Homo sapiens: one gene and its partners. The protein of the gene in region 1 purifies or fractionates together with the protein of each later gene. This does not show direct contact. Each region holds a gene or a part of one and is shown on either strand. Other genes may lie near its edges.

Evidence for each region.
Region 2: the proteins of FAM83F (region 1) and ZNG1C purify together in Homo sapiens (affinity purification with mass spectrometry; one large-scale study listed by BioGRID and IntAct). This does not show direct contact.
Region 3: the proteins of FAM83F (region 1) and PEX6 purify together in Homo sapiens (affinity purification with mass spectrometry; one large-scale study listed by BioGRID and IntAct). This does not show direct contact.

The regions. Positions count from the first base shown.
Region 1 is NC_000022.11:40,039,224-40,045,076, reverse strand, and holds the end of FAM83F (protein FAM83F), read right to left. Parts: 3' UTR 1,543-5,853; downstream 1-1,542.
Region 2 is NC_000009.12:68,269,470-68,273,894, reverse strand, and holds part of ZNG1C (zinc-regulated GTPase metalloprotein activator 1C), read right to left. Parts: intron 1-4,425.
Region 3 is NC_000006.12:42,962,453-42,966,286, forward strand, and holds the end of PEX6 (peroxisome biogenesis factor 6), read right to left. Parts: coding exon 3,790-3,834; intron 3,654-3,789; coding exon 3,592-3,653; intron 3,338-3,591; coding exon 3,229-3,337; intron 2,917-3,228; coding exon 2,800-2,916; intron 2,701-2,799; coding exon 2,623-2,700; intron 2,478-2,622; coding exon 2,338-2,477; intron 2,020-2,337; coding exon 1,883-2,019; 3' UTR 1,413-1,882; downstream 1-1,412. Other genes in the region: CNPY3-GNMT (Glycine N-methyltransferase-like isoform 1 precursor), read left to right, coding at 310-426, 620-762, 876-997, 1,083-1,254; GNMT (glycine N-methyltransferase), read left to right, coding at 310-426, 620-762, 876-997, 1,083-1,254. UniProt on the Homo sapiens protein: Component of the PEX1-PEX6 AAA ATPase complex, a protein dislocase complex that mediates the ATP-dependent extraction of the PEX5 receptor from peroxisomal membranes, an essential step for PEX5 recycling.

The DNA.
Region 1 (5,853 bases):
CGACCCCCGGCCGCCCCGCTCCGTCCCGGCGGGGCGCGGGGGAGGGGAAGGACGGCGCGGCCGCCGCACCTCACTCACCGCCGAGCCGTGCCGGCTCCGAGTGCGCGGCGTTTCGCTGTGAGGCGAGGCGCGCAGTCTCCGCTTCTCCGCAGACTATGGAGGCGACGTCGTAGGGGGGACTGAGGGGCGCAGGGGTCACTCCCTCCCGTTTCGCCTTGCAGCAGCACGGGGACCCCAAAAACTAAAAACAAAATAAACAAACTTTCCCCTCCGCATCCCTCCCCCAAAACCACAACACAAACACTCGGGGGCCCGCCCAGAGCCCCACTCCATTGGCCGCAGGGAGGATGCTTCCGGCTCTCACTGGCTGGCTTTTGTGCCCGTCAAGCTGTCGTTCCGCCCCTCCAATTCCTCGTTGCTGCCTTCGCCCCTCATTGGTTAAGTGCTTCCCGTTTAACGAGCTAGGATTGGCTGAGCTGCCTGAGCCAATCATGTGGGGACACACCCCCTCAGCATCCCAGAGGCCGCTTCCTCGGTCGAGGACCCAGAGAGACTCAGGGGAAATTAGAGCATGATGGCGGCCGAGGTCGCTTGGCGCAACCATCGTCTTTTTTCTTTATTTTTAGCTCATTAGTGCCTTGCCTCGGCGCTGTTTCCCTAAGCTCCTCTCTCCAACCAGTACTGCCCTATAACGGAATCCATACGTGCCGGCTCCTTGATTTATCCCCTCCGAAGTGCTGAGTGTGGGCTGGTTGTGCGTCATTGGACTGTCAGGATGTCACTCCCCAGTCAAATCTTCAAGCTATTGGTGGAACAGCAAGAAAGCCCGTCCATCAACAAGGGCTAATACCATTGGTTTGACTCCACTGTGTTATTTCCTGGCACCTTATTGGGCAAATAGGTGCGTCAGATCCGGATTCGCTCTGCTACGGTTAATTGTTTACTGGGGATTTGGGGTCAACTCTGGTTGTTTGGCCAGTAGTTGACGATAATAGTGACTCCCTTGCCTATTTTGTGCCAAGTATTGGGCTGCTTTCTTCACAAACATTATCTGGTTAAACCTGGGAGTAATGCAGTATCCAGTTTTTATAGATGGGAAATTAAGGCTGGCGAGAGCTTAGAAAACTTGCCCAAGGTCATCCAGATACAGAGTCGTTGGTGGGCCTGGCATCTGGTCCTGGGTCAAACTGCAGAGACTTCACTCTTTTTATTATGCTTTAGTGCCTCCACCTTAGACGATGTACTTGTCAGCCAACCTAGCATCTTAAAAACGTTTCATTTGGAACTCAAAGTCTTCAGTCAGTTTCTAGAAGTGACTTTGTTGGGGACTTACTATGGAAAGGTTGTCATTGCCTCCACCACATCTTCCTCCCCAGGACCCATTCCTCTCCCCTTTAAGGTAGACATTTCTGCCTCCTTTTATGCGAAGCCTAGGCACCACTCGCAACCCCTGACCAACCATCTACAACTCATTCTTTGGAGAGAGTCCTCAAGAGCTGGAAAACTAGGAGAAATCAAGTCTAAAGAGAGAGACAGAATAAATCGTCTTAGAAATGAATAATTTATTGCATGCAAAGAGAACAGCCCTTCAGCTCCTGGAAATCTTCCAGGATAGTTGATGCTGAGCAAGACGTGTGCTCCTGGCTGGTGGCCACTGGGTTCTTTCCCTATAGCAGCATTCATCGAAGTGAATCCAACATTTCAGCCAGAGGAGGGCAGGACGCTTAGGACCCATTGCCAGTGAGCTTTTGCGACCGAAATGATCTCCAGGAGCACAACGCTGGACTCTAGCCCACATTCCATCTTGGGTAATTAACATTTTACCGTCCCAAATCCCCATCCCCTGTAGCTTCAGTGGGATCACCGCCCTTGTTTCACTTCCTGATCCAAGCTGTTGTGTAACCTCCTTGGCACTGCTTTAATAATAAAACAACCATTGTAACATAGTAACAATGCTCAACACTTAGAGCCTTTCAGCAAATGAAGCCAAGGTATTTCATAAACGTCAATTAAGAGTAAGTGGCATGTATTCCTAGGGCAACTGCAAGAAGGACAGAAGAAAGATCGTGCGTCAAATTCTAATATAGGTTGTAAGAACGTGAGTCCTTAAAATTGTATGCACATACCCCATATTAGCCTTCCAGTATGGGGATTCTGAACTCAAAAACACAATGAATGAGAAACATTCAGAATCTAAAACCTTCCTAATCTTCAAAGTTGGTTGCTTGGACCCCTATTTTAGCACTTAAGTTGGTGCTTGACTTTCTGGGTAATTGTTTGATACATTTCAGTTGTAAGTACCTTGAAGCAGATGGTTTCTTTTTCATCTTTGTGTCCTTCACATTGTTCTGATCGTAAAAGGCCCCCAAATAAATAATTACTCAGTAAATGTTTAGTGAGCATGTCAGGCACTTTTACTAAGTTACAAAGGCTATGCAGATGAGTGATACACTCTCTCTTCCTTCAAGGACCTCAGTCGAGTAGGGGTGTCCAGCAGATAAGCAGATAACCATGATGCAGTGCTGTGAGAAGGTGCCCTGGAAGCAAATGGTAGGGACATGGGACTCCATCTCGGGAGGGACAGAAATGGCTTCCTGGAAGAAGTGACACCTTCAAGGAGAACTAAAGAATGAGTTACGGTTAGCTAGGCAAGAGACTGGTGATGTGTGGTGACCTACGACATTTGCTCTCTGGTGGCAGGGAGCAGAATGGGAATATCCAGAGATGGCCAAAGCCTGTTCTTCTTAGAATCTTTGTCCATAAAGGCCTCAGCAATTTGTCCACTCCACCTCATTGTGCCTTCCCTCCCAGAGACAAAACAAATGCCTGAAACCTTCTCCTATTTGCCCACTTGAGAATAGGAAAATAATTTCCAAATAAGATGGCCGTTTTTCTGATCATAAAAGTAACATTGAGGCCAGGCACATTGGCTTATGCTTGTAATCCCAGCAATTTGAGAGGCCAAGGCGGAAGGATTGCTTGAGGCCAGGAGCTTGAGACTAGCTAGAGCAACACAGGCAGAGCCCATTTCTACAAAAAGAAAGAAAATAAATAGTTGCGCATGGTGGCCTGCGCCTACAGTCCCAGCTACTTGGGATGCTGAGGTGGGAGGATTGCTTGAGCCTGGGAGTTCAAGGCTGCAGTGAGCCACACCACTGCACTCCAGCCTGGGCAATAGAGCAAGACCCTGTCTCAAAAAAAAAAAAAGTAACATTGAGTAAATATAATATTAACTCAATATTTAATATTCTGTATTTCAGACAATATAGAAAGTTATAAAGTAAAAGCCGCCCATAGTCTGTTACATCCAGACACTGTTAAGGAGACTATCTTCCCAGACTCTTTTATGAACAGACCCACAAATGAGTTTCTTCTTCCAACAAACAGTGGGATGTGGTTCAGGGTCTTTTCTGGGCTCTCAGAGCTCTCATCACCCAGAACTGCGGCTTTGGATGGAACCTGCCCTCGCTTTCTATACTTATAGGAAGGAAGCCAATCTGTCAATCAAATATTTATTGTGGAGAAGATGGGTTTCAATTCCTGTCAGAGCCAATGGCAGGACTTTTGGGGCTTACTCAGCCTGGTGTGAATGTTAAGCCAATGATTGGGGTGAGGGCGTCTGCCCTGTAGGGCTTACAGGCATGCCTTGGTGCCTGCGGAATCAACTCATACCCTGAAAAGGCAGCCCAGGTCAGAGAATGCTATGCCAGGGTGCTCTCTTGTGCTTGCTCTCATTTCCTCTCTGCATGCTACTTGGGGAAAATATTTTTCTGTTTGTTTGTTCCAACCCACCCAGCTTTCAGAGTAAAAAGACTCGTTAAGCCCTGCACACTTGTATGCAGGCCAAGTGCACTATGTTCTTGGAGCGCTGTGCTATTCTTAGCGCTCTATATGTGGTGTTCTATACAGTTGGCTTTTTGCTGGAGGGGAAGGCAGATTTCATGAGTGATAGCTGCCTTGGCTGGCTACCAAAAGTGCTCTGAGCCATCTCAAGCAACAGGCCTTCCTTTTTTCCCTTGAGAGGTTGTGTTGTGATCCCTGCCCTCGGCTTGGACAAATTCCAAGGCAATGGGAATTTTTGTGAACAATTCTGCAATAACCCACAAGCTGGGGGAAGGGGGGATAGCAAGCTGGATCTGCTCCAGCTCTAATTTCTGTGACACAGAAGAACTCCTTCCGCCCTTTGCACTGGCCCCTCATAGCTATGAAGAATTTGGAAGTGTTCATTAAGCATTCTCCAATTCTTGAAGCTTATAACAATGGGAAGATCCCTGTAAAGGAATCTGATCCAAAAGACAAGGGGACAGCTGACAGCTGATACTGCTTGCTTGGGCAGTGGGTGTAGCCATTGCCAAAGACCAAGAGCAATGAGGCAGGGAAACTCTCTAAAGAGGGCTGATTACAGAGGGCATGCTTATAAGCATTTATTGCATGTCTGGGAGCATTTACTGTGCAACACATCCCTTGTGTCTGTCTCACCTTCTAAATCACCTATCATTTTTTATGACCACACTTCCTGAGAAGCTACTTAGTTAAGCAGCAAACACTGGACCCCCTCATGTGTGCTGGCCAATGCTAGACACACAGGAGGCAGCTCACAAGAGAACCAGGATTATGGTTAATAATAACTACCCTTTGGTGGACACTTGCTGTGTGTCATACACTGTACTGAGGGCTTTACGTGGATTATGGCTGTTAATCTTCACAACAACCATTGTTATCCACATTTTCTAGATAGGAAAATGGAGGCACTGAAGGGCTAACTAACCCATCGTTGAACCTAGGCGGTCTGACTCCAACGAGTAAGCTCTTGTCCACGCTGCTATATTGCCTCTGGGATGTCTGACTTGGGAACCCCACAGTGCAGCTGGGGAGATGACCAGCCCTCAATGAACAGTTGTCCTCGTAGTCTTTAGTATCTCAGCCCCATCCTCTTTACCCCCTATAAACTCAAGGAAAGAAATACACCTCTTTCCGGCTAAATTACTGCCTCTGGTGGTCCTTCCTCCACGTCCCAACTGAGATCTGGCTTTTCTCCCACTCCCTTCAAATAGCTTCCTTCCCTTTCTTCTCTATTTTCTTATCCTAGCTTTTTAAATAATGGCCTGCGGCCATCTCCACCACCAGGAATGCTCTCTCGTTTTCTCTCTCTGAACCTGGCTTCTAGCCCTAACTCTACTGAAATTCATTTCTCTAAGCTCATCTATAACCTTTTTGTGGCCAAGATCCAAGAGACTTTCTCAGTCCTTGTTTCCATGGCTTCACCAATACGTTTTACTCTGAGAATCTTTTCTTTGCTTCCCCAAATAGCCAGCTTTCCTCCTACCTCTACAACTGTTCATGCTCTTTTCCCTACCATCTCTTTCTCTAAGCTCCTTCAAAGGAATCTGTCTGCACTTCTCTCCTTATGTTGTCTCTGGGGGCGTGCGACGCTCGCAGGACTCAGCAAGCTCAGCTGGGTCATTATCCTACTTTCACCTCTAAGATGAGAATTCTATCTCTCCATCTCCACCCTTCATTCTGCAGCTTGTTTGCTGCGTGACTTTTTGCAAGTCACACAAACTATCTAAGCTTCAGTTTCCTCGTTTCTAAAATGAATATATTGAATCGGATTTGTTATTCTCCACCTAAGATAATGATAAAACCTAACATTTTAACCCACATACCAGGCCAGGCGTAGTGGTTCATGCCTGTAATCCTCCCAGCACTTTGGGAGGCAGAGGCAGGTGGATCATGGAAGTCAGAGGTTCAAGACCAGGCTGGCCAAAATGGCAAAACCTCATCTCTACTAAAAATACAAAAATTAGCTGGGTATGGTGGCGCGCACCTGTAATCCCAGCTACTCAGGAGGCT
Region 2 (4,425 bases), on another chromosome or scaffold:
GCACTCCAGCCTGGCACAGAGTGAGACTCCGCCTCAAAAGAAAAAAAAAAAAAAAAGAACAGCAGAGGACAGTGATTTCTCATAATCAAAGCTAAGGTGAAGAAATATTTAAAGAAAATGACAAATGTATAATTTCAAATTTAGATTCCAGAAGCTTGCCAAACATTTGTTAAATTTTCTTACAAGGAAAAAAAACATCATTGGTCAGATTCAAGATTTTTTTTTCTTTAATGCACAAACATATAAGAAAAAACATCTCCTTTATCTTAGGACTGACCAACTGTGCCTGCTTTCTTTATTCTCAACAGTCTATCACATACTCGTACTCGTGGCAACAATACTGTGTTAGATTATGAATGCTTGTCTTGGCAAAAGAGAGACAAATTCCCATCTTATTACTCCAAAGTTCTATGTTAGTAGACTATAACAGCAACTCAAATTCTGGGCATTTTAGATGTACAGAATTAGAAAAATGATCAAGCAAAGAAGCAAATGTTCTATGAAGAAATTTTTGAATATCAGTTTACACTAAAAGGCCAAAGTCTTAATATTAAACATATTTCCTTTTTCACCCCCCACCCCTCCCCCCGCTACTGAGCATATTTATATTGACAGGTCACAAACAAGGGGCATGGGGGCTCCACTTTGGGAGGCCAAGGTGGGCGGATCACTTTGAGGCCAGGAGTTTGACACCAACCTGGCCAATGTGGCGAAACCGTCTCTACTAAAAATACAAAAATTAGCTGGGTGTGGTGGTGCACACCTGTAATCCCAGCTACTCGGAGGGTGAAGCAGGAGAATCGCTTGAACCCAGGAGGCAGAGGTTTCAGTGAGCCGAGAACGCACCACCACACTCCAACTTGGGGGACAGAGTGAGATTCTGTCTCAAACCAGAGTGAGATTCTGTCTCAAAAAGATAAAAATAAATAAAAATAAAAATAAAAATAAACCAAATGAATGAAGTTTCCCTCCAAGTTTGTCATCTTCATCTTAGGAAATAGCTTAAAGTTTAATAAAGTTTACACATGCCAATTTTGTGAATATCAAATTCAACAGTTTGGAAACACAAGCTTCTAAATAAACTGTTTCACTGTGACAGTGTCCTTGAGAATACATGCCATCCAGAGGTAATTCTGCTTTATACTCAGATTCTTTCCATACTTCCAAAAAAGGATCAATATTAGACCTGTATAACAAATTACACTCTTTTACAGAAAATAATAAAATATCCAAGTCTCTCACCAAATTTTCAAAAAAGAGGAAAAGTGTAAGCTTCCAGATGAAAGTTTCTATAGCTTTCCCCAAATTTAGTACCACCATGAAAAAGAAATTCTTCACTCATTCAAGGCATACGACTAGAAAACTAATTTCCATGGCATCAAATTAATTTCCTCCTTTGGAGATAAAACCATGAGATCTTTTCCAAAGCATTAAAATCGCCAAGAAAAAAAAAAAAAAGAAAAAAAAGACCATTACCAGCATTTTAAAACTGAGTAAGAGAATGAAGTAAACAAAAAAGGGAAAGAAAAAGCTTCAAAAGTTCATTTTTCTCCTAATTTCTTGAACTCTCTATTCCAGAAGTACCTAATGTTTTTCTTAAAAGAGAGGCTTTCAATTTTTCCCTATGTCTAAAGGCTGCTTTAAGTAGCTTAAGACCAAGGACAGGAGAGTGAAAACGAAGAGGGTTTTGGCTCTCCTCGGTGGGGGTGGAATTGCAGCTACTGCTTAGGGATATTTTCCAGTGGTCAGCTCTTCAAACTCCAGTGAGTCTCATAAACAGGGTGCACCAGCCAATCCAAGTATCCAGTATCTACAATGCAAACTGTAGATACTATCCAAATTGACAGTAGATAGCTCAGTAAATAGCTGAGCAAACTGCAATGATAGCTCAGTCTTGAACTCTGGAAATAAATTTCCAAAAGCCTTCCCCAGTGGCACTTCAAACTCAAAAACGTTTACAAAACCAATCACATTTTCCAAACCTGCTTCCACCACTACCCGACCTGTTGCTCCTCCTTCCTGTATTTCCTATACCTCGGAGATTAGTCTCACATTGAATCTACCTCCCAAGAGTCATGTTGCTTTTAAAATCCTTCACTAACTCCTTGCTCCCTACAGAAGAAAATCCAAACTATGTATCATGGCATTCAAGACCCTTTGTGGTAAGTTCTCTATCTCTTCAGTCATACCACTTTTTCTGTGCTACATAATACCAAGTTTTCTAGCCATTCTAAAATATTCAAAGGTCCCTGGAATACAAAATCTTCCTTATACCTGGAAAGTTATCCCTACCCTACTCCATCTGTAAAAACCTTATTCATTCTTTAAGACTCAGGTCAATGACTGCCTTCTCGGTCAATATTTTCCTGACTCTTTTTCAAGAAAAGTTGAGCAATCATTCCCTCTATTTTCCTATTATTATAGAACTCTGTGCTTTTAAAATTCTTGTATTAATATTAATATCTATTATGTTGCCTTTTTGTTTGTTTGCTTCTGTTTCCCCCCAATGACTGATCTCCTTAAAGGCAGAGTTTTTGCCTTATCCATTGCTTATATAGTCCTTAAAATGCTATGAAATGCATAGCAGGCAGTTTGTCAAATTAATTTAACTTATTATTGACCAGCTGTGTTTTGGTTTTCCTCTGTTCAGTCCACTTACATTTCTAAAAATTAAGAAAAAGTCTAGAGAAGATTAAAATGACACATCTTCTAACCTGTTACTCCTACTTCTGAAATCTATGTGGTTCACTAGTACTTCCATTTGCTACTAAATCAACTTAAGTCTTACCACTAAGACGATGCTACACACTATTCCTTTTCCTTACTCTTAACTACTCAAGGTGAGCCTTTTTCTACACATGCTTATAGCAGTTTATTGTCAGTACTTGTCAGCTACAAAATGGTAAAAAAATTTTAAAAAACAAAAAATAAAACAAAACTTCTATAAGAGTGACTTTGACTATTTTGTTAACCATATCTCCGGGTTTTTTGTTTGTTTGTTTTTTTTTTTTTGAGACAGAGTCTCGCTCTGTCACCCAGGCTGGAGTGCAGTGGTGCGATCTCAGCTCACTGCAAGCTCCGCCTCCCGGGTTCACGCCATTCTCCTGCCTCAGTCTCCTGAGTAGCTGGGACTACAGGCGCCCACCACCAGCCTCAGCTAATTTTTTGTATTTTTAGTAGAGATGGGGTTTCACAGTGTTAGCCAGGATGGTCTCCATCTCCTGACCTCGTGATCCGCCCACCTTGGCCTCCCAAAGTGCTGGGATTACAGGCGTGAGCCACCGTGCCCAGCCCAAATCTCCAGTTTCTAAACTGGTAAGCTCAAGTTGCTATGCCTCAAGGAATTTGAGAGAATATTTAATATAAGATTCAGGACCCAATAGTAAGAATTCTACTCAGGACATCTGATCTTCATTGAAAAGGATTCTAATCCAACTTCAGTCCTCATAGCAAGGAAGTACTATTTCAGAAAGTCCCTAGATTCTCAGATGCATTGGCAAGCACCATACACTGAAGAATTCACAGAAGATTTTAGTCACTTGCTCACTCATCCACTTGAAGTAAGAAAAATCAATCACTGCATGTTTATTGTTCTATAATAAAGCAAATGTTAGAAATAAAAGTTAGAAATGTCAAACACACTAAATTGTTACATAATAAACTAATCAAGACACAACTTTTATTCAGGACATGGATATTTCTGAAATGAAAATAAAAGAAGAGAATTGACTTAAAATGTTTATAAATACGAATATTATGACAGAACCAAAGCTATTTATGAGCATTATTTTTAAAAGCTTGTTTAAGTATCATGCACTTGTCTGTGTGACATTTTGTAAAGCGGAGAAAAATTAAGGAGAAAGGAATTGTAGAACACTAACAGGAAGAGGACAGATACTGAGGAATGGCTCATGGTATAAGTGAGATTATCAGAGACTCTCTACAATGGAATTTGAAACGCAGGGAGCACATTTGGTGTATGGTTGTAGAGGACTTACACTAAGGGCATTCTTCTGCTACCTCTGCCAGCAGATGAGTGGCTCCTGAGAATGCATACCAAATTAATTCCCCAGCTGTTCACATGCATATAAGCAGCTGCTGCTGTTACTGCCTAATACTTATGGCAGTCTGTCAGCACCTCTAATCTCTGCCATAGCAGACAAGCCACTCACCTAAGGCCTCTGCTGTACTTCCAAAGAAAGAATTTCTCAAGTAGAGACTGAGTGGAACTAGACTGCCAGCTGTGAGCCTCAGAGCTCCTGGCTGCCTGTTGCTGAGTCTATCAGCTGCTGAGCCTTTCTCACCAAAAAAAAAAAAAAAAAAAAAAAAAAAAAAAAAAAAAAAATGAGCTTAATAAAATAACCCTGCACAGAAATTTTCTGAAATTAAGATAACATTCAATGGAAAACAGAATTTAATCTACAG
Region 3 (3,834 bases), on another chromosome or scaffold:
CAGAAAAATTACTGTCATTTCTCTGAAAAGCAAGTCTTAAGCTCCAGAATGAGACACCGGGTGTGAAGAGCTGGTTTTAACTGTGTTTGTGGCATCTTGTCCCTCCCCTCAAAGAAAAACCCATAAGCACAGAGCCCTCCTTCCCAACCAGGGTTCCTTCTCCCTTGATCCCTCTTTTCTCCTCCCCCTAACTGAACGGGGAGCTTGTGTGTCTTAAGAAGAAACCCAGGCAGGACTGCACTTGGTGGAGGTGGCTGCTACTGGTACCATCGTGCCTCCCTGATTCCTCTTTCTCTTCCTGACCCCTAGTCATCGAAGAAGCCAACTGGATGACTCTGGACAAAGATGTGCCCCAGTCAGCAGAGGGTGGCTTTGATGCTGTCATCTGCCTTGGAAACAGTTTCGCTCACTTGCCAGACTGCAAAGGTAAGAGAGGGTGTGGCCTTGGGCATGGCCCCCGCCTTGAGGCCCCCTTCCACAGACATCTGGCACCTGCTCTCCTGCCAAAGCAGACTCTCTGCCTTGGCTCTGGCACCCCTGGGGAGGGGAGAGATGGGAGGGAGACTGGTGCTGGGGGCCCTGAGCAGATGGAGTCTTTCTGCCCGTGCCTGGAGCTCAGGGGACCAGAGTGAGCACCGGCTGGCGCTGAAAAACATTGCGAGCATGGTGCGGGCAGGGGGCCTACTGGTCATTGATCATCGCAACTACGACCACATCCTCAGTACAGGCTGTGCACCCCCAGGGAAGAACATCTACTATAAGGTGGGGCCCTCTGGGGTGGGGGTGGGGGTGGGGGTGGGGGTGGGGTGGAGGGAGGGTCCAGTGGCCCCAAGGTGGGTTACAGAGGCTAATGCCGGCTGCCCCACCACCTACAGAGTGACTTGACCAAGGACGTCACAACATCAGTGCTGATAGTGAACAACAAGGCCCACATGGTGACCCTGGACTATACGGTGCAGGTGCCGGGGGCTGGCCAGGATGGCTCTCCTGGCTTGAGGTACCACTTGGCTTAGTGGGGGTGAGGCGGTAGTTGGGGGAGCTGAGGTCACCAGTCCTCATGGTTGCTGGGGCCTCTGTTACAGTAAGTTCCGGCTCTCCTACTACCCACACTGTCTGGCATCCTTCACGGAGCTGCTCCAAGCAGCCTTCGGAGGTAAGTGCCAGCACAGCGTCCTGGGCGACTTCAAGCCTTACAAGCCAGGCCAAACCTACATTCCCTGCTACTTCATCCACGTGCTCAAGAGGACAGACTGAGTGTGGCCTCAGCTCCCACAAGCCTCTGCCCAGGCACTGCTAGGCTCTGTCTGGAAGATGGGGACCAGCAGCCCCACACCAGGGCCAGCCTCTAGAGCAGACTACAGCTGGGGTGCAGGGATGTGGGTTCCACAGACGGAAGGGTAAACAATATAGTCTTTTTCAGTTCCTGCATGCATTGTGTTTATTTATGTCAGAAGGATCAGGCTCCCATGCTGCCCACCCCCCCACCCTCTCCCAGGGCTTACTCCTCCCACAACCCTGCTCTTTCTCACTCCAACCTTTCATGCCACAACACCAGTAGGGGGCGGGACATGCTTTATTTTCAGCCACAGAACTAGCCCTCTCAGGGCCCAATCCCCAGAACCCAAGGCCCTGGCCCTCTTCCTGAGTAGATGGGCCTTTCTCTTAGAGCCGGCCTGGAAGGAGGGGCAAGTAGGCAGGAGATATCTCTTGAGCTGTTGCTGCTGTCTCAATGCCACTTTGCACCCTGGGATCTCCTGGAGGGAGGTGGCCTCCAGGTGGGTTGGCAGCAGCCTGAGGAGGAGCCCTTCCTTCCCAGATCTCTCTGTGGGCTATCAAGGTACCTGCAGCCATGCTGAGCGGGGTCCCAGACCCTGGGGGGCTCCTAGCAGGCAGCAAACTTGCGCTGGATGCGCTTGTACCGGAGCAGCTCCTGCTCACTGACTGAGGGTTGCAGCCGGGCGGCAGCCTGCAGCAAGTCCTCCATGGTGAGCATCAGTGCTGAGCTACCTGGCTCCAGCCCTGGAGATGACAAGGTGGGGAGGCTGTGGTCTATGCCCAGGCAGGGGAGAGCCCTGCGAAGGTGGCTTCCTGCTCAGGGTCTCCTAGATGTCAATGATCTTCCCTCTGGAATCCAGGACTAGGTTTGTCTCCCACTAGTTTTTTTTTTCCCTTAAACATTTTTTTTAGAGTTGGGGTCTCTCTGTGTTGCCCAGGCTGGCCTCAAACTCCTGGGCTCAAGCGATCCTCCCACCTCAGCCTCTCAAGTAGCTGGGACTCAGGTGCACCCAGCTCCCCACTAGCTTTTTGGTTGACCTCTCAGACCGGCAAGTGGCTCACCTTCCTCCAGGTCATGAACCCTGCGTTTGAGGGCAGCTGTCATAGCATCAGAGCAGAGAGAGTAGAGGTCCGCGCCCGTCAGCTGGGGAGGGCAGCAATCTAGCACGTTTACCAGGCTCACAGATGGCTCTAGCTTGAATCTGTTGTGGGATACAGGAAGAAACAGAGTTGGCATCACCTCCTCCCTCGAAAGCCAGTGCTGACCAGCTCATCCTGCATGTTGCATGCATCCCCTAAGCATCCCAAGGCCCAAGCCCTTCGCAGTCTTCCTCTAACAGAGCATACTTGCGTGTGATGGCACTTAGAACGCGTAGCTGGGAGGCCCGGTCCTCATTTGCCCCCACAAACACCAGCTTGTCAAATCTTTAGGGAGATAGGCAGGTATAAGTTTCAGGGAGCCCAGCCATGAGGGGTGAAGGAGGCACAAAATGAGGGTGGAGATGAGCAGTACAAGGGGCCCACCTGCCAGGCCGCAGAAGGGCAGGGTCCAGGAGATCTGGTCTGTTGGTGGCTCCAATCACAAACACATCCTGAGTGCTGTGCAGCCCATCTAGCTCGGCAAGGAGCTGAGACACCACCCTGGAGAGAAGGGAGCAAGGGCAAGAGTCCTTGGTGTCCCCCTTAGACTCTGCCCCTGCCTGTGGTACCTCTCTTTACAGGCAGTCTCAACAGGGCCCTCCACTCAGCTGTGCCCAATGTGCCCCACCAGGTAGGCCCCCATTCTCCTCAGTGGACCCTGCCCAATTTCATGGCCCCTTTCAGCTTCCATTATATTATCTCAGAACTGAAACAGCAGGAACTTCTATCTCTGGACTCTGAAGACTGCTGTGAGCTTTCTCATATCCTTCCCACCCTGGACCCCTCAGCTTTCATTCCCACTCAGACCCCTACCTGTCCATCACTCCTCCAGAATCTCCACTTCGCCCCCGGCTTGGGGCCAAAGAGTCCAGTTCATCAAAGAAGATAATGCATGGAGCTGCAGCCCTGGCCCTGGCAAACACTGAAGAGAGAGAGGGGCCCACAGGAGGGCAAAGCTCGGCTTGTGGGGGGTTGAAGTTAGGTGAGAGCAGGGAGGGAAACTGGGGCCTGACAATACAGCACTGGCATCCCAGGTACTAGACCCAGCTGGGCAGGAACCTGACTTGTAGAAAGGAGGATTAGGAATGATCATGAGTAGCCTGGGAGTAGGGGGTGGCTTGGGGGCCATCGGGGTTTGGGAAGCATGGGACGCCCTGCCCCTCCCTGCTCACTCACCTTCCCGCACATTCTCCTCACTTTGGCCCACATACATGTTAATGAGCTCTGGCCCCTTCACGCTGAGTGAGAGGATGTGAGAAGGTGAGAGCCGTCAGATGCACATACACACAATTGACCTCTTGGGCAGCCCCTCCTGCTCCCCAGCCTGCTGCAGCCCCTGATCCACCCACCATCCCTTCCAGGCCCCCTGGCCACCTGAGGAAGGTAAGGCTGCACTCAGTGGCTACTGCCTTGGCCAGA